Regions from separate parts of the Homo sapiens genome. Here region 2 is linked to region 1. Evidence: fine-mapped expression QTL. A gene starts in region 1. The other region holds a variant in brackets. All regions are shown on one strand. Distances are from middle to middle. Region 1 holds the start of DBNDD1 (dysbindin domain containing 1). Region 2 has its middle 33 kb from the start of SNORA119.

What was found. PIP is the estimated chance that this variant, and not a neighbour inherited with it, causes the effect.
Region 2: its variant is fine-mapped to the expression of DBNDD1 in whole blood (TOPMed, PIP above 0.99).

What each region holds. Positions count from the first base shown.
Region 1 is chr16:90,013,713-90,024,695 of GRCh38, forward strand. DBNDD1 (dysbindin domain containing 1) reads right to left here and starts at 5,744. Exons shown (of 4, transcript NM_001042610.3): 1 at 5,599-5,744. The coding sequence starts at 5,629. It overlaps DRC4 (dynein regulatory complex subunit 4), which reads left to right and starts at 8,968. Exons shown (of 11, transcript NM_001481.3): 1 at 8,968-9,012. The coding sequence starts at 9,010. RefSeq lists silencers at 5,863-6,002, 6,749-7,043.
Region 2 is chr16:89,980,788-89,991,770 of GRCh38, forward strand. It overlaps the pseudogene AFG3L1P. Among named protein-coding and RNA genes, the nearest start is that of SNORA119, 33 kb to the left of the region's middle. RefSeq lists a silencer at 7,589-7,763. The variant G/A (reference allele first, on the strand shown) is at 6,059.

The DNA of each region.
Region 1 (10,983 bases):
ATTCATTCATTCACCCAACCAAGACTTCCGAATCACCCTCTGTTCTGGGGACATGGCATAGACAAAATAGATGATTCCTGCCCTTCTGAGGGACGGCCAGTGCCAGTGAGCAGTGCGGGGCTGTGCTCCCATTTTAGGGGGCATCTGGGGAGGGTGCTCTACCAAACTTGGAGGAGGAGCCTGGAGGTGGGAGGGAGCCGTGTGATACTGGGTGGGGCGGGGGGGGACATGCATAAAGGCCTGAGCAGAGTGCATTTGAGGACAGCTGGGGGCTGTGAGGCAGGGCAGGGGTGGTGTGTGCAGGTCGTGTGGAGATCGTCAGGACTTTGGTTTCTATACTGAGTAAGCTGAGAGAAGCCGTTGAAGGGTTTTGAATGGAGTGGGACAGCATCTACCTGAATTTTTAAATTATTATTATTATTATTTTTTTTTTGAGATGGAGTCTCGCTCTGTCACCAGGCTGGAGGGCAATGGCGCGATCTCTGCTCACTGCAAACTCCACCTCCTGGGTTCAAGGGATCCTCTTGCCTCAGCCTCCCAAGTAGCTGGGATTACAGGCGTGCGCCACCATGCCTGGCTAATTTTTGTATCTTTAGTAGAGATGGGGTTTCTCCCTGTTGGCCAGGCTGGTCTTGAACTCCTGACCTCATGATCCGCCCGCCTTGGCCTCCCAAAGTGCTGGGATTATAGGTGTGAGCCACCGTGCCGGGCCAATACCTGCATTTTTACGACGAGGCCAGCAAGGGCACAGTCCAGAGGGAGGTAAGTCTGCAGGCACCCTCTGCTTGTGCTGAGATGGAGGTCCCAAGCAGGACCTCAGCCAAACAGCAATCCCCTTCCCCATCTTGCACTGGAGAGGGGGCATGCGAATGCCAGCAGTCCTCATTATAGATCCTGGGGTCCCAAGGGGCTACAGACAGCTTCTGGGACAAAGCTCTAGCCCTGTGGAAGCTTCACAGCAGCCCTGTGTGGAATGAATATCATAGTTGACTCTTAAGAAGTATCCTTTCGGCCGGGCGCGGTGGCTCACGCCTGTAATCCCAGCACTTTGGGAGGCCAAGGCGGGCGGATCACTTGAGGCCAGGAGTTCGAGACCAGTCTGGGCCAACATGGCGAAACCCCGTCTCTACTAAAAATACAAAAATTAGCCGGTGTGGTGGTACGTGCCTGTAGTCCCAGCTACTCAGGAGGCTGAGGCAGGAGACTCGCTTGAACCTAGGAGGTGGAGTTTGCAGTGAGCAGAGATCATGCCACTGCACTCCAGCCTGGGCGACAGAACGAGACTCTTGTTTCAAAAAAAAAAAAAAAAGCATCTTTTCTTATTTCCACATTCTTGAGACAGCAACACATCTGTAGCTGATGGTGTCAGCGTTGATGAGATCCAGTCCTGTAAGCATTTGAAGCCACCAGGTGTCTAGTCTGGTCCTTCCCCATCTCCCTTTGGCCTGGTCTTTATTCTGTAAAGTCTGGTGCCGTGGTCTGTGTTGGGGCTTTGGGGAAGGAAAATTTGGAAGATGCAGCTTCTGCCATCAGGACACGAATTTTTTGGCCAGAAGAATGTGATACCAGGGACAAGACCTGAGCCCCCAGGAGGGGCACGATGGATCTTGGCATGAAGAGCGTGCAGCTGCTATAAGGCATGCTCGTGGGTCCTCAAATGACTGAGCCTACTGTGTAATACATGCAGCATACAGATATGTGTTCGTTGACCATATCAGTAAAGTTCTGGTCAACAGTAGGCTATTAGCAGTTAAGTTTTTGGGGAGTGAAAAGTTCTATGTGGATTTCTGACTTTGAGGGAGGTGGGCACCCCTAACACTTAACGTTGTTCAAGAGTCAGCTGCACATGCATGTTCATAGCGTGATTCACAGTAGCCAAAAGTGGAAATAATCCAATGTCCTCAGTGGATCAATGGATAAACAGAATGTGGTCTGTGCCTACCATGGAGTGAGATTCAACCCAAGAAGGACGGCGGTACTGACACCGGATATCACATGCATGAGCCTGATCACCTCATTCGAGTGAAGGAAGCCAGGCCCAAAAGGACAAATGCTGTGTGACGCCGTTCCTAGGAAATGTCCAGAATAGGCAAGCGCGTAGACATTCCATCAGTGATCGTCAGAGGCTGGGGGGTGGGCAGTGGAGAAGGGGAGAACGGGTATGGGTTTCTTTCTGGGGGGGTAATGAAGATATTATAAAATTAGATAGTGGTGGTGACTGCACAATTTTGTGAATATACTGAAACAGTGAGTTGTACACTTTAAAAGGGTGAACTTTATATGTGAATAATATCTCAATTTAAAAACAATCCTCAATGGAAACAAAGGTTGATCTTGGCTGGAACTGATAGGCAAAGCCGGGAGGAAATGACAGAGACTCACATACACTGTGAGTCGGCCACACGCCAGACCCCCAGGCACAGCCCCAGAGCAGGCTGGGACTGGGTAGAGCGAGAAGCATCAGCTCTAAGCGGCTTGTATCTAGTTCATGGCTGCATTCCTGGGACCTAGCGCACAGTAGGTGCGCAGTAAACAAATGAGGGTGAATCAACTAGCCCACGGTTAGTGAGGGACTGCGCTAGGAATCACCCAGGCCTGTCTGACACCCTCTCAACAAGCTTGTAGGAAGAAGAAAATTCCTCACGGGCGAGACCTGCTGCTTTTCCCAGGGTGGGAACCAGAGGCTCAATGCCAGGCAGGCATGGGGGCGGGTGCTGGCAGCCCCCAAGGTCTCCAGGGCCAGGGCAGAGGCAAGCAGGTGTTTCTGATGTCCCAGGAAGGACCCCAGAGTGTGGGGACACAGCAATGTTCTGGTCCTTACCCCAGCACAGCCCCTATCAAGGGGGACCCAACCCCCCTGCAGGGGCTGCTGGTGCCCTCGCTGATGAGTGGGCACTGAAGGAGCACCTCAGCGAGGGAGCCAGGAGTTGGGGTGCCTCAGCCCGGCCCCCCAGGCTTCCCTGAGGGCTGATTGCTGATGCCCTGTGCTCTGCTGCTGACCTATTTTCCAGCACATTCTCGACTGGGAAACTTGGCCCAAATCCTGTTCCCTGTTGTGTGCCCAGGGCCCCGTCCAGAGCATCGAGGAGGCACTTGGCACACACCACTGTATGGACGGATGAGCTAATGAAGTGAATGAATGAATATCATAAAACTAAATGGCTGGAAGGAGAGATGGTCGCAGAGGCAGGGGCCACCTGCCCCCCATCCCCCAGCACCTTCCTCTCTGGATTTGGACCCCCAAAGTATTTCAGGGATGCTGGAGTGGCCGTGTCTAGACTCTCAGCCTCCTGAGGATCCCTCTGTCCCTGTGGACCCTTGGGCAGACTGAGTTGGGGTGGGTTACAGCCCTGGCTTCCAGGTGGGGCCCTCAGAGAGGGCACAGGTCACATTCCTGTGCACACGTGCACCTCCGTGTTCTGTACATTTCATATTAAGAAATCATTAATTCCTTTAGTTGCAAAAATAGTGTTTTAATAATGCTTTATAAAAATCCTATTTTGCCGGGCATGGTGGCTGACGCCTGTAATCCCAGCACTTTGGGAGGCCGAGGCGGGTGGGTCATGAGGTCAGGAGATCGAGATCATCCTGGCTAACACAGTGAAACCCCGTCTCTACTAAAAGTACAAAAAATCAGCCAGGTGTGGTGGCGGGCGCCTGTAGTCCCAGCCACTGGGGAGGCTGAGGCAGGAGAATGGCGTGAACCCGGGAGGTGGAGGTTGCAGTGAGCCGAGATCGCGCCACTGCACTCCGGCCTGGGCAACAGAGCGAGACTCCGTCTCAAAAAAAAAAAAAATCATATTTTACAGATATTTCTGAATTATTTATCAGTGAAATAATATGTCTAGATTTGGTTCAAACCACTAATGAAGGGAGGTTGGTGGTAGTCTGGAGAGGAGGCTGTGGGCCTGGGGGCTGGGATGTCACACATGGGCCTTTGTCCCGCCGTTCTCTCTACTTTTGTAAGGTTTTCAAAAGTAAGTGATAAGTAATGACAGAGTCACCAATGTGTGATCTCATGAGGTTCCACAAAGTAGGCATCACTGGCCACTTTGCAGACAAGGAAACAGGAGTTGGTGTCAAGAGCGTGAGCCCTCAGAGGACAGGGCCCTGTCTTCCCACTAACTCCCCACCCCAGGCAGGGTACTGCACAGAGCTGCGACCTGTAGGTAAATACCTGTGCACTGATTGAGTCAGGTGTCTGAAGCCCCCAGCCAGTGACTGATGGGCTCAGAAACTGAACCTGCTTTCTCTGCCTTTTAAGCTGCTGGGAAGTCCTCCTTTTTTCCCAAAGGAGGAGGGAAAACATATTAACCTCCACTCCCAAATGCCTTGGGCTCCCACAGCCCTGCAGGGGAAGCAGAACTGTCTCCACTGACAGAAATGGAAATTGAGGCTCACAGGGGCCTGACTGCCCACAGTTCACAGCTGGAAACAGCTCGGAGACCCCCAAGCCCTCACTCCCAACCTCCAGGCTTCCTATGTCCACAAAGCTGCTACTGGGAATACCCAGGAGCCTGGGACTATCAGTGTTAAGAAAGAGCTCTGGTCCCTCCCACAAATGACAAATCAAAACCCAAACCCACCAGCCCTGGGGCATTTGTCCCTATACCTTGGACTGCAGATACACAGGGTGGGTGGACCTGCTCCTCCCGGGGACAGCCCTTCGGGCTCCAGAGGATGCCACTGTGTGCGGCTGGGGGACTGAGAGGTTCCCATGTAGTTCCAGAGCGGCAGGCTGGCCTGCCTGTGCCCTCAGGCACCTGCTGGCTCCCTGGAATGGGAGCTCTAGGAAACCAGGAGGTGGTGGGCTTGGCTGGGCAGGTGGAGGAGTCTGCAGTTTGCATCCAAGTTCCTACCTAGGCAAATGGAACCCCGAAAGCCCTTTTGGAAAAGTCTCTGATCGGGAAGGGGGGAGGTTCTGAGAGCTTTCTTCCCGTTACCGACTCCAAGGTCCTGCAGTAGGGCCTCCACCATCAGGGCAGGGAGCGCTCCACGCGCACCTACCCTCCCCGATGAGCGTGCGCCTGGGCCACTCCCGGACCAGCCACCCTTGCAGCTCTGGAGTCCCCGGCAGGCCGCGCCCGTGCATGCCCCACATCCCCAAGACCCATCTCAGCCCCTCGCCCCTGGCAGGATCCCTGCCCGCGAGTCTACGGCCCTCGCCCCCCGGGACTCGCGGCTGGGCGAACAAAGCGGACGCGCTTGCAAGCGGCCAGCGTCGCCCTCACGCCCCACCGACAGGGACCCCAAACTCCAGCCCCGGAACCCCCCTCCCCCGCTCCCCGGGTCACCGGCTGGCTTGGCTGGGAGGGGGCTCAGGACGAAACTCCGGGCCACCCACCAAGGAGCGTGCCGGGCACGGCTTCCCGGGCCGGGAGCGCAGAGAACAAGGGGGCGGAGACTCGGTCCGTGTGCCCCCAGCCCCGCGCGGGGACCGCGCCCGGGAGGTGCCCCTGGCCCGCCGGACGACCCCGAGCTGCCAAAGGGGTCTTCGCGACTCCCGGGAGCGGCGAAGGGTGAGCCCTGGGGGGAGGGGCTGCGGCTCGCTGCGGGGAAGCGCTGCGCGGGGGTCTCGGGGGCTGGGGCTGAACTCACCTCCGGTGCCGGCGCCCTCCGGGGGCTCCATGCGGCCGGTGCGGTCTGGGAGGGGCACGGGCGACGGCGGCGTCGCCTGGCCCGGGCGCCCCAACAGCTGCGGCAGCGACTCGGCCCCGGCTCCGGGCGCAGCGCATCGGGGCAGCAACCGGGGGGCCGCGGCGGCAGGGAGGAGCCCGCGGGGCGGGGCGGGGCGCGCAGCTGCTCCCGGGCCCCGGCCCCCTCCCGGCGCCCCCCCAGCCGCAGGACAGGTGCGGCCCCGCCCCGGCCCGCGCGCGCCCCCTGCTGGCCCCTGGCCCAGCGGACCCCTCCCCCGCCGACCCTTCCCTCGCGGGCCGCGCCCCGCCGCGGACACCACCGGGACCTGGCTGCGCCCTCCCGACCCCGGCCGGGCGTCCGGGGCTCCTGCGCACTCACTTGGCGGCCGCGCCCGCTGGCGTCCTCTTGTTCTCTTCCAGGTACTTGCGTGTGGGGCGCCGACTGTGTGCGGGCGCCCCTCGGGGCTGGCGAGGGGCACAGGAGGGGCCTGACTCGCGCTGGGTAATGACAGACTCACAGAGCGCCCTGGATGGCGCGAATTAACGCGGGGGGCGGGTGGGGGCGAGGGCGTGTGCTTGGGAGGCTGGAAGGGGCGGGATGGGGGATGGGAGGTAAGGAGAGGGCGGCGGGCCCGGGCTGCAGAGAGCGCCAAGGCAGTTTCGATGAAACTGACCCCCATGTCCCTATCGCCCAGATTCAGCGATTGCCAGCTCCTGGCCTGGGCCACTGCTTCTCTGTCCTCATTCACTTCCCTCCACTGCTGGGTCATTTTGAAGCAAATTATATACACATTAGATCATTGCATTTGTAAGTACTTCAATATTTATCTCTCAAAGAAAGTCCGTTTGCAGGAGCATTGACTCATGCCTGTAATCCCAGCCCTTTGGGAGGCTGAGGTGGGAGCACAGCTTGAGCTCAGGAGTCCAAGGCTGCCGTGAGCTATGATTGTATGTCTCAAAAAAAAAAAAGAAAAGAAAAGAAAAGAAAAAGTCTAGTCTTCATAAACACTCTTGTTAACCCAGCATCCAGGCCTTCACTGAGTTGATGCCGTGGCCTGAGGCGGTTTACCTGGTGGATAGTGGGTGGCAGGAAGCATCAGACATCAGACAGAGGGCAGTCGGTTTGTTTGTATTAACATTTGCTCTGGGATTTTGCAGGAAACTCAGATGCCATTTATCTGGGTTTCTGAGCTGCACAGCTTGACACTGAATGAAAGTATCTTAAGCCACATATGTGAAGAAAAGGCTCTTTTCTAAAAATCTGAACTCGAATTCAATATGAAAAGAACAGGTCGCAGTGGGCCCTGTCGGGATCCCAGGGAGCCGCAATTCAGGGCTCCCTGAATGATTCATCTCTGCAGCCCACACCGACAGACCAGGATTGCTCTTAGCTTGTGAAAAATGAGTACCCTGTCTAGGCTATCCTGAGCTAACCCTCCTATTCTTGCCCTTTTTGCTGAAAGGAATTATTGTTAATACAGCTATTTAATTCAGGACACTCATCCAGACTTCTGAAGCAAAAAGCCAATCAGCATGAAGCTGCTAGCATATTGGTTTTGTGAAGTAAGTGTTAAATTATAATAATTACCCCCACTGTGCTCTCCAGCGTCACTGTCTGACCACCCTGTCCCAGGGGGAGGAGGCCCCTCTCAGGCCAAGGGAGTCTGGCACAGTGATGCTGGCTCCTGGTTGCCCAGGCACAGTGACCAGCCAGACTTCACAGAGGCCTCAGGGCTTACTATAAATAAATCACTGCTTTGTGCAAGCTGAGCCAATGCAGTTCTTCCAACTGGCTGCTCCTCTCCAAGAACAATCAGGACTTAGGTGGGCAAACAGGAAGTCTCTCATCACAGTGGTTCTCAGATTCCCACCACTGTGTGGGTGCCTGAGGCCTGAGCAAACCCAGCTCATGTGGCAACTTCCTCCCCCAGCTGGACAGGAAGACCTAGGTCCACCAGGCCTTCTTTCATTTCTCACACTTTGCCCCCAGCACAACTTTCTACGAGCATGGATTCTGTACTCTTCATCCCCAGACACATGGGAGAACAAGATCTGCTACAAGACCTTTTCTTTTTTTTTTTGAGACAGGGTCTCAGGTCTCATTCTGTTACCTAGGCTGGAGTGAAGTGGTGTGATCTTGGCTCACTGCAACCTCCACCTCCAGGGCTCAAACGATTCTCCCACCTCAACCTCCCAAGTAGATGACCACTTTTTAAGAAGATGTTAAAGATGAGAGCTTAGGGCTGGGCGTGGGGCTCACGTGCTCCCAGCACTTTGGGAGGCCGAGGCAGGAGGATCACTTGAGGCCAGGAGTTTGAGACCACTCTGGGCAATAAAGCAAGACCCCGTCTCTATTAAAAACTTAAAAAAAAAAGCTGGGTATGGTGTCTCACACCTGTAGTCCTGGCTTCTCAGGAGGCTGAGGTGGGAGGATTGCTTGAGCCCAGGAGGTCGAGGCTGCAGTGAGTTGTGATCACAGCCTAGGCGACAGAAGGAGACCCTGTCTCCAAAAAAAAAAAAAAAAAAAAGCACCTGTTTATGACAAACTCAGCTTTCTGGGTGACATAGATGGTTGTATGTAGGTAACAGGGTGGTTTCACGGATGGCAGATTCATTTTAGAAATTGTAAAATGGCTAGCAGTTTTCAGAACAAGAGATTAGTTAGAAAAGGAAAGTGGCAGCTGTTTGTTTTCTGCAGGGCCTGTCGGGAAGCCTCTGGTTTCTTTTCATCCGTGAGGAGTGGGGAGGAGGCCTCTTCAGGAAGAGCAGTTTATTTTTGTGAAAGGAATACTTACTGATTTCAAACATTTGGAACTAAACTGGAACGTATTTTTCTTTCCGATTTCTGCGTTTTTGAGGTGTGTGTAAACCCACCAGCGCAGCAGCTGGGAGGGCCCTTCAAAGGTGGGCGGGTGGGGTGAGTGAGGCCCAGGGGATAGAGTGTTTGCCCAGATTTGAATCTCATTTGGGGAAAGTTTCAGAGGCTTGGGTGGCTGATTGATCATTCCTTCAATGGTCCTTCATCAGCACGTCTTTACTGAGCACGTGCTGTGTGCTGTTCTAGGCGCTGAAGGATAGAAGTGAAGGGTTCCCCCCTCGTGGAGCTTAGGTTCCAGCAATAAGCAAAACATGCCCTGCAGCGAAAGGCTTCTGGGCTGCCGGCGACATTTTCCCAACGTTCACAACCGGGTTCCTTCCGGACGCCCGTCTCTAGGGACGCACTCCCGCCTTTGGCAGGGCCGCTGCCCGGCGGAGTCTCGCGAGGATCTTGTGACTTATCGCGGCATCGCCCAGCGGTTGCCGGGAAACGGCGTGGCTTCCGGGGGCGGGCGCCCTGGTCCCGGAGTCGCCGCTGGGCCTGTCCGCTGGCGTCATGGTGAGCAGGGGCGGGAGCGGGGCTGGGGTCCTCGGCAGGGGCCCGGAGACCTCGGGGCAGGGAGGCCTCGGTACACGGAGACCCTGGGAATGGGAGGCCTGGAGCGCTGGGTTTCTGGAATTGAGAGCTCGGTGCTCTTGTGGGGGTCTCCGTGGGGCAAACTCAGGATGCTCCCGGCCCCGGGGCCTGGCAGCACTCGGGACTGAGACCTGGGCTGTCCAGAGCCCTGTGCTCACAGGGGTGGTCATAGAACGCCCAGGGCCCGGGGTCGGCGGCGCACGGTCCCCAGAAGAGTGAACATGCGTCAAGGGGACTCTCATCCTGGAATGGCAGACTCGGTCTGTTGGATCCCTGGGACCTAGGGTTTCAGCTCACGAGGCTTTGCAGAGCACCAGGGTCCCCATGGAATAGAGCCGGAGGCAGGAATTACCCTAAGACCTTTGGTCTCCCGGATGGAGAGCCTGGGGCACACCAGAGTGGCTAGAGATCCCTCTACACCAAGGAGGCCCGGACAGGTCCAGTGCCCTTGGAGTGCCCAGGGCACAACCTTGGGATACAGGAACCACTGTTCCCTTGGAAAGCCTGGCAGGAGTCAGGCCCAGACCGAGAAGAGGAAGGCGGAGCTCGTGGCCTCATCAGCTCCATGTCTGTCTTTCTCTTGTAAAGGGCTCTCCCTTTGTGGTACAGGAATTGTCAGTAACTCAATTTCTGGGCAGGTGTGGCAGGGTGGGTTTCAGCTGGTGGGGGGAGGAAAGCTCTGGGAGCCCCACCAAGTCCCTGCAGCTGGCTGTGAAGGTCCCAAATGCTAAGTAATGCTGAACCTTCCTCCACTGCCTTCAGGGCTTTGTGATGAGGTAGCCTTCTTGGAGTGGAGGGATTAAAAAGAGAGCAGTACATTACGAATTAAATTTAAGTAGATGGGTTTTCTGACCCAGGAAGGGTCTTCTGAAAACCGACTATGAAAGAAACTACCAAACTAGGCCAGGAGTCTGGGCGCGGTGGCTCACGCCTGTAATCCCATCACTTTGGGAGGCCGAGGCAGGCGGATCATGAGGTCAGGAGATCCAGACCATCCTGGCCAACATGGTGAAAATCCATATCTATTAAACATACAAAAATTAGCTGGGTGTGGTGGCGTGTGCCTGTAGTTCCAGCTACTCGGGAGGCTGAGGCAGGAGAATCACTTGGACCTGGGAGGCGGAGGTTGCAGCGAGCCGAGATCGCACCACCGCACTCCAGCCTGGCAACACGTCTCTTAAAAAAAAAAAAAAAAAGCAGGGTGTAGTGGCTGACGCCTGTAAACCCAGCACTTTAGGAGTCCAAGGTGGGTGGATCACTTGAGGCCAGGAGTTGGAGACCAGCCTGGCCAACATGGTGAAACCCTGTCTTTACTAAAAATACACACACACACACACTCACACACACACACACACAAAATTAGCCGGGTGTGGTGGTACGCACCTATAGTCCCAGCTACTTGGGAGGCTGAGGCAGGAGAATTTCTTGAACCTGGAAGGTAGAGGTTGTGTAGTGGGATTTTTAAGGAATTAGAGAGACCGATGGGGTTCAGGAGGATATTTATTAATTATTTAGGTGCACCGGCCCAGTCAGATTAAAATCCAAAGGACTGAGCCCTGAACAAAGAGTTAAGTTACCTTTTAAGCTTTTCGTGGGGCAGAGGGAGATCTGTGCAGGGGGAAGCATGCTTCAGATGTGAGAAATAAAGGCAGTTGTTCAGTTGAAACATGCATTACATCATTTCTTACTTTTTAAGGAAAAACATGTTTTGCGACTTGAGTTTATCTGCCTAGTGACCTTGCAGCCGCACAGCTACAGAATCAGGGTCTTCACAATGCCTGGGAAGGGAGGAGAGACAAGGCTCACTAGCCGCAGAAAAACAGGCAGTTAATTTTTAAAGGACTCCAGCTCTTTCTCTTTTTCAGGGGGAGTTGGGTTTTCTTATATATAACT
Region 2 (10,983 bases), 33 kb before region 1:
TAAAGGTGAACTGTTGAATTAGTTCATAAGTTTCAAAGAAATTAGTTTCTAAAAATGTACTGAGGCCGGGTGCAGTGGGTCATGCCTGTAATCCCAGCACTTTGGGAGGTGGGAGGATTGCCTGAGCCTAGGAGTTTGACACCAGCCTTGGCAACATAGTGAAACCTTGTCTCTACAAAAAAAAAAAAAAAAAAAAAAAGCCAGGCATGGTGGTGTGTACCTCTGGTCCCAGGTACTCAGGATTGCTTGAGCCCGAGAGGTTGAGGCTGCAGTAAACCATGATCGTGCGACTGCACTCCAGCCTGGGTGACCAAGTAAGACCTTGTCTCCAAAAAAAAAAAAATTAAAAAAAAATAAAAATGTGCTGAGATTTCTATCTGGATTTTATTATTATTATTATTTTTGAGATAGGGTCTCACTGTGTCATCCAGGCTGGAGTGCAGTGATACGATCACTGCTTACTGTAGCCTTGACTTCCCAGGCTCAGATGATTCTCCCACCTCAGCCTCTAGAGCAGCTGAGACCACAGGCTTGCACCACCACTCCTGGCTAATTTTTTTTTAAATTTTTTGTGGACATGGGGTCACCCACCGTTGCCCAGGCTGGTCTCGAACTCCTGGGCTCAAGCAGTCCTCTCACCTTGGCCTCCTTTAGTGCTGGGACTACAGAGCTGAGTCACCACGCCTGGCCTCTGTCTGGATTTTAACAGACCCCCATAAGAGAGAACCCTAGCAACAGTGGCTCAAACACAGCGCTCTCTGTGGACTTTCTGCTTCTCCTGAGGCATCTGCTGAGCTGCGGCTTTCAGTGTGTGTCATACACCACGTAAAGATCTTTCCTCATGAGAGGAACTGAGGCTACATTGTGTACGGTCGGTGGGGGGGGGTTGCAAAACTTTCCTAATAACATCTGAAAAAGGAAATAGCTATTTTCATAAAGAAACTACCTTCATTTAACTGGAAAATGTGTTTTCTTTTTTCCACAGGGGGGACTTCCCCTGGGATGACGAGGATTTCCGCAGTCTGGCCCTTTTGGGGGCAGGCGTTGCCATGGGATTTTTCTACCTCTATTTTCGAGATCCTGGAAGAGAAATCACGTGGAAGCACTTTGTACAGTATTACCTGGCCAGAGGTCTGGTGAGAGGAATTTATAGTTTACCTACCTGGGAAGGAGGCCGCTGTAGTGGTGCACGTGGTCTGCGATGCCCTTAAGAAGCTGTGAGCTCTGAGGCCTGGGTTGAAAACCCGTTGTGTGGTAGATGTCCTGGGCAGTCCCACCCTCAGGCCATAGATGAGACACAGGTTTACTTTTCCCAGTAGCCAGCCCAACAGAAGGTTAGGAAGCTCATTTTTTAGATGAGACACAGTTTTACTTTCCCCAACAGAAGGTTAATAAGCCCATTTTCTTGCAAGGTGGAAGCTTCCTTAACATCTTGGCTTTTTGTTTTTAGCTTCAGCTTCTGTGAGTAAGTTCTGATTGTCTGATTGTGTCTGTTTATCATCAAGTATCAATTACATACCTAATGCAGATCTTTTGTTTCCCCTAGTGTACCCGTGTCCCCTCCTGCACCCCTGTCCTTTGCTGGCTGACCCTGGACAGCGGCTGGGGCTTTGTGTCTGTGCACAGGGGCATGTGGCACCAGCAAGCCTCCGCCTGTCCTTCACTGGGCCTGGTCTGTCGGGTTGCTGAAGGCCGGTGAAGCACTGCTCAGGGTTTAGTAACCAGCAAGCCTCCGCCTGTCCTTCACTGGGCCTGGTCTGTCGGGTTGCTGAAGGCTGGTGAAGCACTGCTCAGGGTTTAGTATAAAGTTACATGAGAGCAGGTGCCGTGCTTCTCAGTTGCCCTCAGAAGGACGTTTGTTAACTGATACAGTGTTAAGATCTGAACTTCTTTCTGTAGGAAAGTCCTGTTTTCCCACCAGGGTTTGTGGCTAAGGCCTTTTTTTTTTTTTTAATTAATTAATTAATTAATTTTTTTGAGACAGGGTCTTGCTCTGTCACCCAGGCTGGAGTGCAGTGGTGTGAAGTCTTGACCTTCTGGTTCCAAGCCAGCCTCCCACCTCAGCCTTCTGAGTATCTGGGACTGTAAAAAATGTAATTTTTTTTTTCCGACATGGAGTCTCGCTGTGTCGCCCTGGCTGGAGTACAGTGGCACGATCTGTATTCACTGCAACCTCCACCTCCCTGGTTCAAGTGATTCTCCTGCCTCAGCCTCCTGAGTAGCTGGGATTACAGGTTCTGGCCACTACACCTCCATGGGAGGTGGAGGTTGCTAGTTTTTTGTATTTTAGTAGAGACAGGGTTTCACTGTATTGCCCAGGCTGGTCTCGAATTCCTGAGCTCAGGCAATCCTCCCACCTTGGCCTCCCAAAGTGCCAGGATTACAGGCGTGAGCCACTGTGCCCAGCCCGCACTTTTTTTTTTAGAGACAGTGTCTCCTTATGTTGCCCAGGCTAGTCTCAGACTCCTGGGCTCAAGTGATGCTCCCACTTTGTCCTCCTGAAGTGCTATGATTACAGTTGTGAACCACCACCCAAGGCCTTTTTGTCTGGCCACAGGGCACACACCTGTCTTCAGAGAGGTCCCTGATGACTCCTTATGGGAGGAAGGGAGAGCTGCTGCAGCCCATCTCTGCTGTTGGTCTTCACTCACAGCTGCTGCTGTGAGGAGCAAGATGCCTGCTGGTGTGTGGGTTCTGGACAGATCCCAGAGCTTCTGTGAGGTCCTCTCCAGGTATCTGACACGCTGACCGTGATGCGGTTGCGTTATGGTCAAGAGGCCCCTGTCATAAACACGTTCGTGTTGGTCACATGACCCTGAGTAGTCAAGAAAAGTAGGGTTATAGTGGTTTCAGATTCTGTGGAGAGGAGAAAGCAACGCTGTTGTCATGATACCTAAGGAAATGGCCGCACTCTCAAGTTGTGTTTTTGCTGCGCACCGGCTGTCGGGCTGTGTTCGCCGCTGGGTGGCTTCGTGGAGGCCTTTGGGGTTGCATTTTCATTCTTGGTGGCACCATTTTCTTGTGGTATCTGCAGCTGTGTGGGCGAAATGTTTCTGGATGAGTTCCGGAAGACTTTGCTGTATTGTCAGTCTGAGACCTCTATGCCTTTTAGATTTTTTTTTTCAGATGGAGTCTCACTCTGTTGCCCAGGTTGGAGTGCAGTGTACAGTCTTGGCTCATTGCCACTTCCGCCTCCCGGGGTCAAGCAGTTCTCCCTGCCTCAGCCGCTTGAGTAGCTGGGATTACCGGGACGCCCCACCACATCTGGCTAATATTTGTATTTTTAGTAGAGACAGGGATTCACCACGTTGGCCAGGCTAGTCTCGAACTCTTGGCCTCAAGTGATCCACCCTCCTCAGCCTCCCAAAGTGCCAGGATTATAGGTCTGAGCCACTGCGCCTGGCCTTCCTTTTAGATTTTTAAGTCACTCTGGAATCTTTGGTGCTCAGATGTACCAAATTGTAACTCCTCTTGAATTACATGCACAGGCCAGGCTAGAAATGTCCAAATCAGTCAGAAAACAAAACTCGGATCTGCACAGCAGAGTGGATGCAGCTTCTCAGACACCGTTGGAGTCTCGGTCTGCACTGTGGGGCTGGTCTGAGGATGAGGCCCGTGGTTTAGTGTTGAATATGATACTCATTGCTTTAGCTGTGGGCTGGTCTGAGGGTGAGGCCCCTGTTTACTGTTGAATATCATACTCACTGCTCTAGCTGTGCTGATTATTTTTCTCTTTTTCCCAGGTGGACCGGCTGGAAGTCGTGAACAAACAATCTGTGCGTGTTATTCCTGCCCCTGGGACCTCTTCTGAAGTGAGGGGTGAATTTAAGGCTGAGTATTGCAGACATAAGTTTATTTCGTGTAAAAATGTAGTTTTCTATTTTTTTCAGTAAAATACTCCCTTAGTATCCATCAGCTACTCGTTAATGTGTTTTTTTCTCATTGGCATGTATCAATAACAAAGCCTTCCAAGGAGGACAGGAGCCCTTATAAGACTGACTAGGGTTCAGATTTGCCAAGCAGTGTCTGAGAACAACTCATCAAGGATTGTGGGGAGAGAAGAGAAGGAGACAAAGATAAAAGAGTAAAAAGCCAAAAGGAATGGCTGGCCGTGGTGGCTCATGCCTGTAATCCCAGCACTTTGGGAGACAGAGGCGGACAGATCACTTGAGGCCAGGAGTTCAAGACTAGCCTGGCCAACATGGTGAAACCCCATCTCTACTAAAAATACAATAATTAGCCGGACATGGTGGCCTGTGCCTGTAATCGCAGCTACTCAGGAGGTTGAGGCATGAGAATTGCTTGAACCCGGGAGGTGGAGGTTACAGTGAGCCAAGATCATCCCACTGCACTTCAGCCCGGGTGACAGAGGGAGACTGTCTCAAAAAAAAAAAAAAAGAAAAGAAAAAGAGACAAAGGCACACCCCAGCAGTTGTTGGACATTTTACACTTCCATCTAGAACTTAAAGACTAATTTCGTGGGGCCAAAACCAGAGTCTTCTGCTGTTAGTTAGTTTCCCTTGGAGCTAGCCTCTGCACAGGCCTCACCCATGTGGAGATTAAGGCTAGGAGAAGAGGCAGTGGGAGATGCGTGTGTGAGGGTGGGGCTCAGTGTGGGACACGGCGATGCACCCTAAGCTTGCTCTTGCTCTCTGCAGAAGTTCTTGTGGTTTAACATTGGCAGCGTTGATACCTTCGAGCGGAACCTGGAGTCTGCTCAAGGGGAGCTGGGGATCGAGCCCCACAACCAGGCAGTGGTAGTCTACACCAGCGAGAGTGATGGGTGAGGAGGATGGCGAAGGGCCTCTGTGTGAACACAAAACAGAAATGCAACATTTAAGCTGTGTTGGAATTTGTTTTTCAAGCTTATTAGAGGCATCTGTAATAAGCAATGTCTGTAGTAAAAAATATATATATACTTTTATATATATATATATACTTTTATATATACATACTTTTACATATATATACTTTTATATATGTATACTTTTATATATATACTTTTATATATGTATACTTTTATATATATACTTTTATATATGTATACTTTTATATATATAATATACTTTTATATATACACTTTTATATATATACTTTTTTACATATATATATATATATATATATATATATATATACACACACACACACACCCCCACACACATATATGTATATATTTGTTTTTTACTGTTTTTTCATGAGAATTGAAGCAGGGAAATATTTGGCTAGGCAATGTTACAAAAGAAAACCAGTCGTTGGGTTATTGTTGGAGCAGAAATTCCCTGAAGTCCCATAGGAAGCCTTCCACAATTGGGCCATGCAGCAGGATCACTACGAGAGCCCTGTCAAAATGCACTTTCATCATTTCTACCTGCCACTCCTGCAGAAGTGTCGAATTAACGTCCAGAGGTGGGGCTTGAGCACCTGTGACTTCCCCAGGCTCCCTTTTGGGCAGCCCTGACCCATCCTTCCAGGTGCTGGGGGTCCCTGCACACAACCCTGTAGCTCCCATGTAGTACCTGACACTTGGTCGTTCTTTTGGTTTTTTTTGAGACAGTCTTCCGCTCTGTCGCCCAGGCTGGAGTGCAGTGGCGCAGTCTCAGCTTGCTGTAACCTCCACCTCCTGGCTTCACACCATTCTCCTGCCTCAGCCTCCCGAGTAGCCGGGACTACAGGCGCCCACCACCACGCCCGGCTAATTTTTTGTATTTTTAGTAGAGAGGGGGTTTCACTGTGTTAGCAAGGATGGTCTCGATATCCTGACCTCGTGATCCGCCCACCTCGGCCTCCCAAAGTGCTGGGATTACAGGCATGAGCCACCGCCCCCGGCCGACACTTGGTCATTCTAAGCTTCCAGTGGCTCTCATATTATCTTGGATTTCCGCTGCATCGTATGTTCTTAAAGTAATTATGAACACAAGGGCAAAGACCAGATGAAATACTCTGTGCGTCCCAGGACTCAGCACAGAAGTCAGTGTTGCTAAGCGTGGATCCTGTTTTCGTGTTTTCACTTCCTGGGTTTGTCATTGCTCTGTCTTCTGCGGCCCTTCTGCCCTGAATT[G/A]GAAACTGAACCGAGAGAGAGTACAAATCCAGTACCAGCTTTAGCCAGGAGGGTGTAAAAATTGGAATCGTAGTGGTGTGGGCGGTTTCTTTGAGACGTATGTTTAAGCACAGAGTAGGGGCTGCAGTGGGGTGAGAGAAGGTGAGGCAGGTAGAATTCTGGAGATTCTCTCTCAGATTCTAGTGGCAGGGCCCGAAGTGCCTGTGGTCTCCTGCTGGATGGAGCTCCCGGATGTCATCTGGGTGCTGTTTATTGCTGACTTGGGTTCTGTCTTTGCTTGTTGAGTTGCCAGGATGCCTGGTTGTATGTGGGGCTGAAAGTGAGTGTGGAGCCGCTGGAGGAGGGATGGCCTCGAGCCTTGGAAGAGCAAGAGCAAAGACAAAAATAAACCAGGCGGACATTTGGTGTCTTCCTGTGACAAAACAACCCAGTTGGCCCTAGATGTGAGGAGGCCTTGCTGGGTCTGCTGGCGGCACCTCCCGGGGGAGACACTGTGGTGTAAGCTCCAGCAGGGCTGCTTGGCCAGGTGGAGGAGGTGGAGGAGGTGGAGGAGGTGGAGGAGGTGGAGGAGGTGGAGGAGGTGGTGGGTGGTCACTCTCCCTGCCCCACCAAGCCAGCCACAGGTTCCATCAGGGAGATAGAAATGCCTGTGACTAGAGCCTTCAGAATTGGAGAGGCCTCGTGCTTGATGGACTTTGACACATTTAAAAGAAAGAGGCCGGGTGCGGTGGCTCACGCCTGTAATCCCAGCACTTTGGGAGGCCAAGGCGGGCGGATCATGAGGTCAGGAGACCGACACCATCCTGGCTAACATGGTGAAACCCCGTCTCTACTAAAAATACAAAAAATTAGCCGGGCGTGGTGGCGGGCGCCTGTAGTCCCAGCTACTCGGGAGGCTGAGGCAGGAGAATGGTGTGAACCTGGGAGGCGGAGCTTGCAGCGAGCCGAGATCTCGCCACTGCACTCCAGCCTGGGCGACAGAGTGAGACTCCTTCTCAAAAAAAAAAAAAAAAAGAGGCCGAGGGCCGGGCGTGATGGCTCACAGAGGTAATCCCAGTGCTTTGGGAGGCTGAGGAGGGAGGATCACCTGAGACTAGGAGTTCGAGACCAGCTGGGCAACATAGTGAGACTGCGTATCTATAAAAAGTTAAAAAATTATCTGTTGTGGTGGCATGCATGCCTGTGGTTCTAGCTACTCAGGAGGTTGAGGCAGGAGAATCTCTTGAGCCTGGGAGTTCAAGGTTACTGTGATCATGCCACTGCCCACCAGCCTGGGTGACAGTGAGACCCTCTCTCAAAAAAAGGAAAAAACCCTGCTACCTTTTGTGTAGCAACACAAAGTCCTAGAGCGGTCTCCTCTAAGAGACAGAGTTTTGCTTTGTCATCCAGGCTGGAGTGTAGTTGTGTAGTCATGGCTCACTGCAGACTTGAACTCCCAGGCACAAGCAATCCTCTTACCTCAGCCTCCTGAGGAGCTGGAACTACAGGCACACGCCACCATGCCCAACTAATTTTTGTATTTTTACTAGAGACAGGGTTTCACCAGGTTGTTTAGGCTGGTCTCGAACTCCTTACCTCAGGTGATCCACCTGCCTTGGCCTCCCATAGTGCTGGGATTACAGGTGTGAGCCGCCACACCCGGTCATTTTTATAAATTTTTTTAGAGACGGAGTCTTGCCACGTTGCCCAGGCTGGTCTTGAACTTCTGGGCTCAAGAGATCCTCTCACCGTGGCTTCCCAAAGTGCTGGGATTACAGACGTGACTCACCGTGCCTGGCATGAAGGTGCTATTTCTGACCTCCTGAGTGTGACAAGTAGTTCTCTTGGATTTTCCAGCTCTTTCTTGTGAAGTCTGGTGCCCACCCTTCTCCTGGTTGGCATTCTCGTCTATGCTGCCAGGAGGGGCCTTATGGGATCCAGGCGCAGTAGACGAGGAGGGGGCCTCTTCGGTGTTGGTGAGACAGCAGCCAAGATCTTAAAAAGCAACATCGATGTGTTATTTGCAGACGTAGCTGGGTGCGAAGAATCAAATTGGAAATTATGGAATTTGTGAATTTCCTGAAGAATCCCAAGCAGTATCAGGACTTAGGAGCAAAAATTCCAAAGGTATTGATTTTGGAAAACATAGTAATACTCTGAGCTCCACATAGATGGCTGTGGGTCAGAGTCGGTTCTTACTCCTGTTTTATTAATTTAATATTAATTACATAGAACAACAGGTACAACTTGTATGAACAGGCTTGGGATCAGATGTAGTTGCCTCTTGGTAAGCCCGTGACCCAGCCAGCGGCTAGGTGTGTGCAGCCAGACGGCGGCTACGTGTGTGCGGGCAGTCAGCCAGCGCGTTGCAGGTGGTGTGGGTCAGGGTGCTGGATCTGGCTGCTGGGCACACAGAGCAAGTTTATCTCTTCGTGCCATTTTGGGGTCATGACTCTTTGGGGGCCTGAGAGAAGCCATGGATTTTTTTTCCCAGAAATATTTGCATTCACAGAAACTCGATTCACACACCCTTTTAACTCACCTCTGGGCTTTGGACCAGGCTGACATCCAGATCCTTGCAGTGGCCTTGCACCCCCACCCCCCAGCACCTCCCGATGGGGTGGGCATTCACTGGGCAGTTTGTTCCAAACAACAAATAATGATTATACCAAGCACCGGGAACCTGGGGCGGAGCCAGAAGGTGACAGACCTGTTTTCCACTTTGATGAGCATGAGGCTGGGAAGCAGGTGTGTGTGACAGATGTGCAGAGCCTGGGGCCTTCTGCTCCTGTTGGAGCTCCACTGGCAGCTGCCATTCACCTCAGCTCATAGTCAGGTGCTGCAGTGGGTGGTTCTCTTTGCCTTTCAGAATTTTTTTTTTTTTTTTTTTTTGAGACGGAGTCTCGCTCTGTGGCCCAGGCGGGAGTGCAGTGGCGCAATCTCGGCTCACTGCAACCTCCACCTCCCGGGTTCACGCCATTCTCCTGCCTCAGCCTCCCGAGTAGCTGGGACTACAGGCGCCCACCATCACGCCCGGCTAATTTTTTTTGTATTTTTAGTAGAGACGGGGTTTCACCGTGTTAGCCAGGATGGTCTCGATCTCCTGACCTCGTGATCCGCCCGCCTCGGCCTCCCAAAGTGCTGGGATTACAAGCGTGAGCCACCGCGCCCGGCCTTTTTTTTTTTGGAGACAGAGTCTTGCTCTGTTGCCCAGGCTGGAGTGCAGTGGTGCGATCTTGGTTCACTGCAACCTCCACCTCCCGGGTTCAAGCTATTCTCCTGCCTCAGCCTCCTGAGAAGCTGGAATTAACAGTTGTGTATCACCACGCCCAGCTAATTTTTGTAATTTTAGTAGAGACAGGATTTCACCATGTTGGCCAGGCTGGTCTCAAACTCCTGACTTCAGGTGATCCACCTGCCTTAGCCTCCCAAAGTGCTGAGATTACAGGTGTGAGCGATCGCATCCTTTTTTTTTTTTTAATTTATATCTATTGCTGCTGAACAAATTACAGTTTTTTTTTCATATGCATGTATTTGCTGGGGAAAATCTGTATGATGGAGTGGGTGAGGCAGTCAGGTACCAAGAAAGGCCCCTCACGTGGTGTGTTGGTCCCCCTTTCCCAGCAGGCAGGGGCTCCTGCGAGAGGGGGCTCTGTCAGCTTCTGTGTTACATCACAGGCCTCGTGCTCTGCTGTGGATGTCAGGAAAGAGTTAGTGGGGTCAGGGCCCATCTAGGTTTCCCGTTCTTGGGTATGAGGTACAGTGATTTCCCAGAATTACCTCTGCCTGTGGCATCCCCCATGAGAATCCATCATGAAGAGCTGGCTGTGTGTGCGGCCATGGTGGGTGCCTCTCCTGGAGCACATGGGTAGGACGGAGTGTGCTGTGGGCAAGTCTGGCCCCCTCCTGCCCTGCAGCTCCTTAGCCATCCCTAATGGGATTCTTCTTAGTCAATCTCAGAAGTCACCAGTTTAAGCAGCTCTCTCACCTGTGTATCATCTGCTCCCCTGTTAAGAGCCCGATGTCACCATTCTGTTTCAGGGAGCCATGCTCACTGGTCCTCCTGGTACCGGCAAGACCCTTCTTGCCAAAGCAACTGCAGGGGAGGCCACTGTGCCCTTCATCACTGTGAACGGGTCTGAGTTCCTGGAAATGTTTATTGGCGTTGGGCCAGCAAGGGTAGGTGGATGGGAACCTGCTGCAGGTGGCCTCAGCACCGTGCCTTGACCAGGACTGGTCAACTTGAATAGCTTAGTGTGGGGCCCTGGGCATGGGCATGTGTGGGAGGTGCTGGTGCACTGAGGCAAAATGGGTCAGAGGTTTCCAAGGAGAGGGTGGAGGATAACTGGCGTTCCCGTCTTCCTACCAGTAGCAAAACCGATTCTGGGTGGGTTCCTGTTTCAGGTTCATGACATGTTTGCAATGGCCCGAAAAAAACGCTCCATGTATCTTATTCATTGATGAGATTGATGCGATTGGCAGGAAGCGAGGCCAAGGGCACTTTGGAGGCCAGAGTGAGCAGGAGAACACCCTGAACCAGATGCTCGTGGAGATGGACAGTGTGTGCAGCTGTTCCCCTGCAGCTGCTTAGGAATAGTCTGCACAGCCTTTTTCTGTACAGTCACCCCCAGAAGAGAATCCCTGATTATTCTGTTTTTAAGGAAGGGTTCTCTCAGGCAAACGTACTGGAGAAAGCTGTGTTAGATTCACAAGCCTCCTCCAGTGCATTCCCCTGCCCCCAGATGGAGAGGAGTTCTCTGGAGTGTGGAGACACCTGCTTCTCTGGGGAGGGGGACCAGGTAGCCGAGCATGGCTGCTCCTGACGGTGCCCACAGGGTGGTGTGTGCACAACCCATGCTCCTTCCACTCTGAGCCTTGTCTTGCTGCCCCTGCATCACCCAGAATCTCACAGACTCCCCAGGCCTGCCTCCTCTCAGAGTGATTGT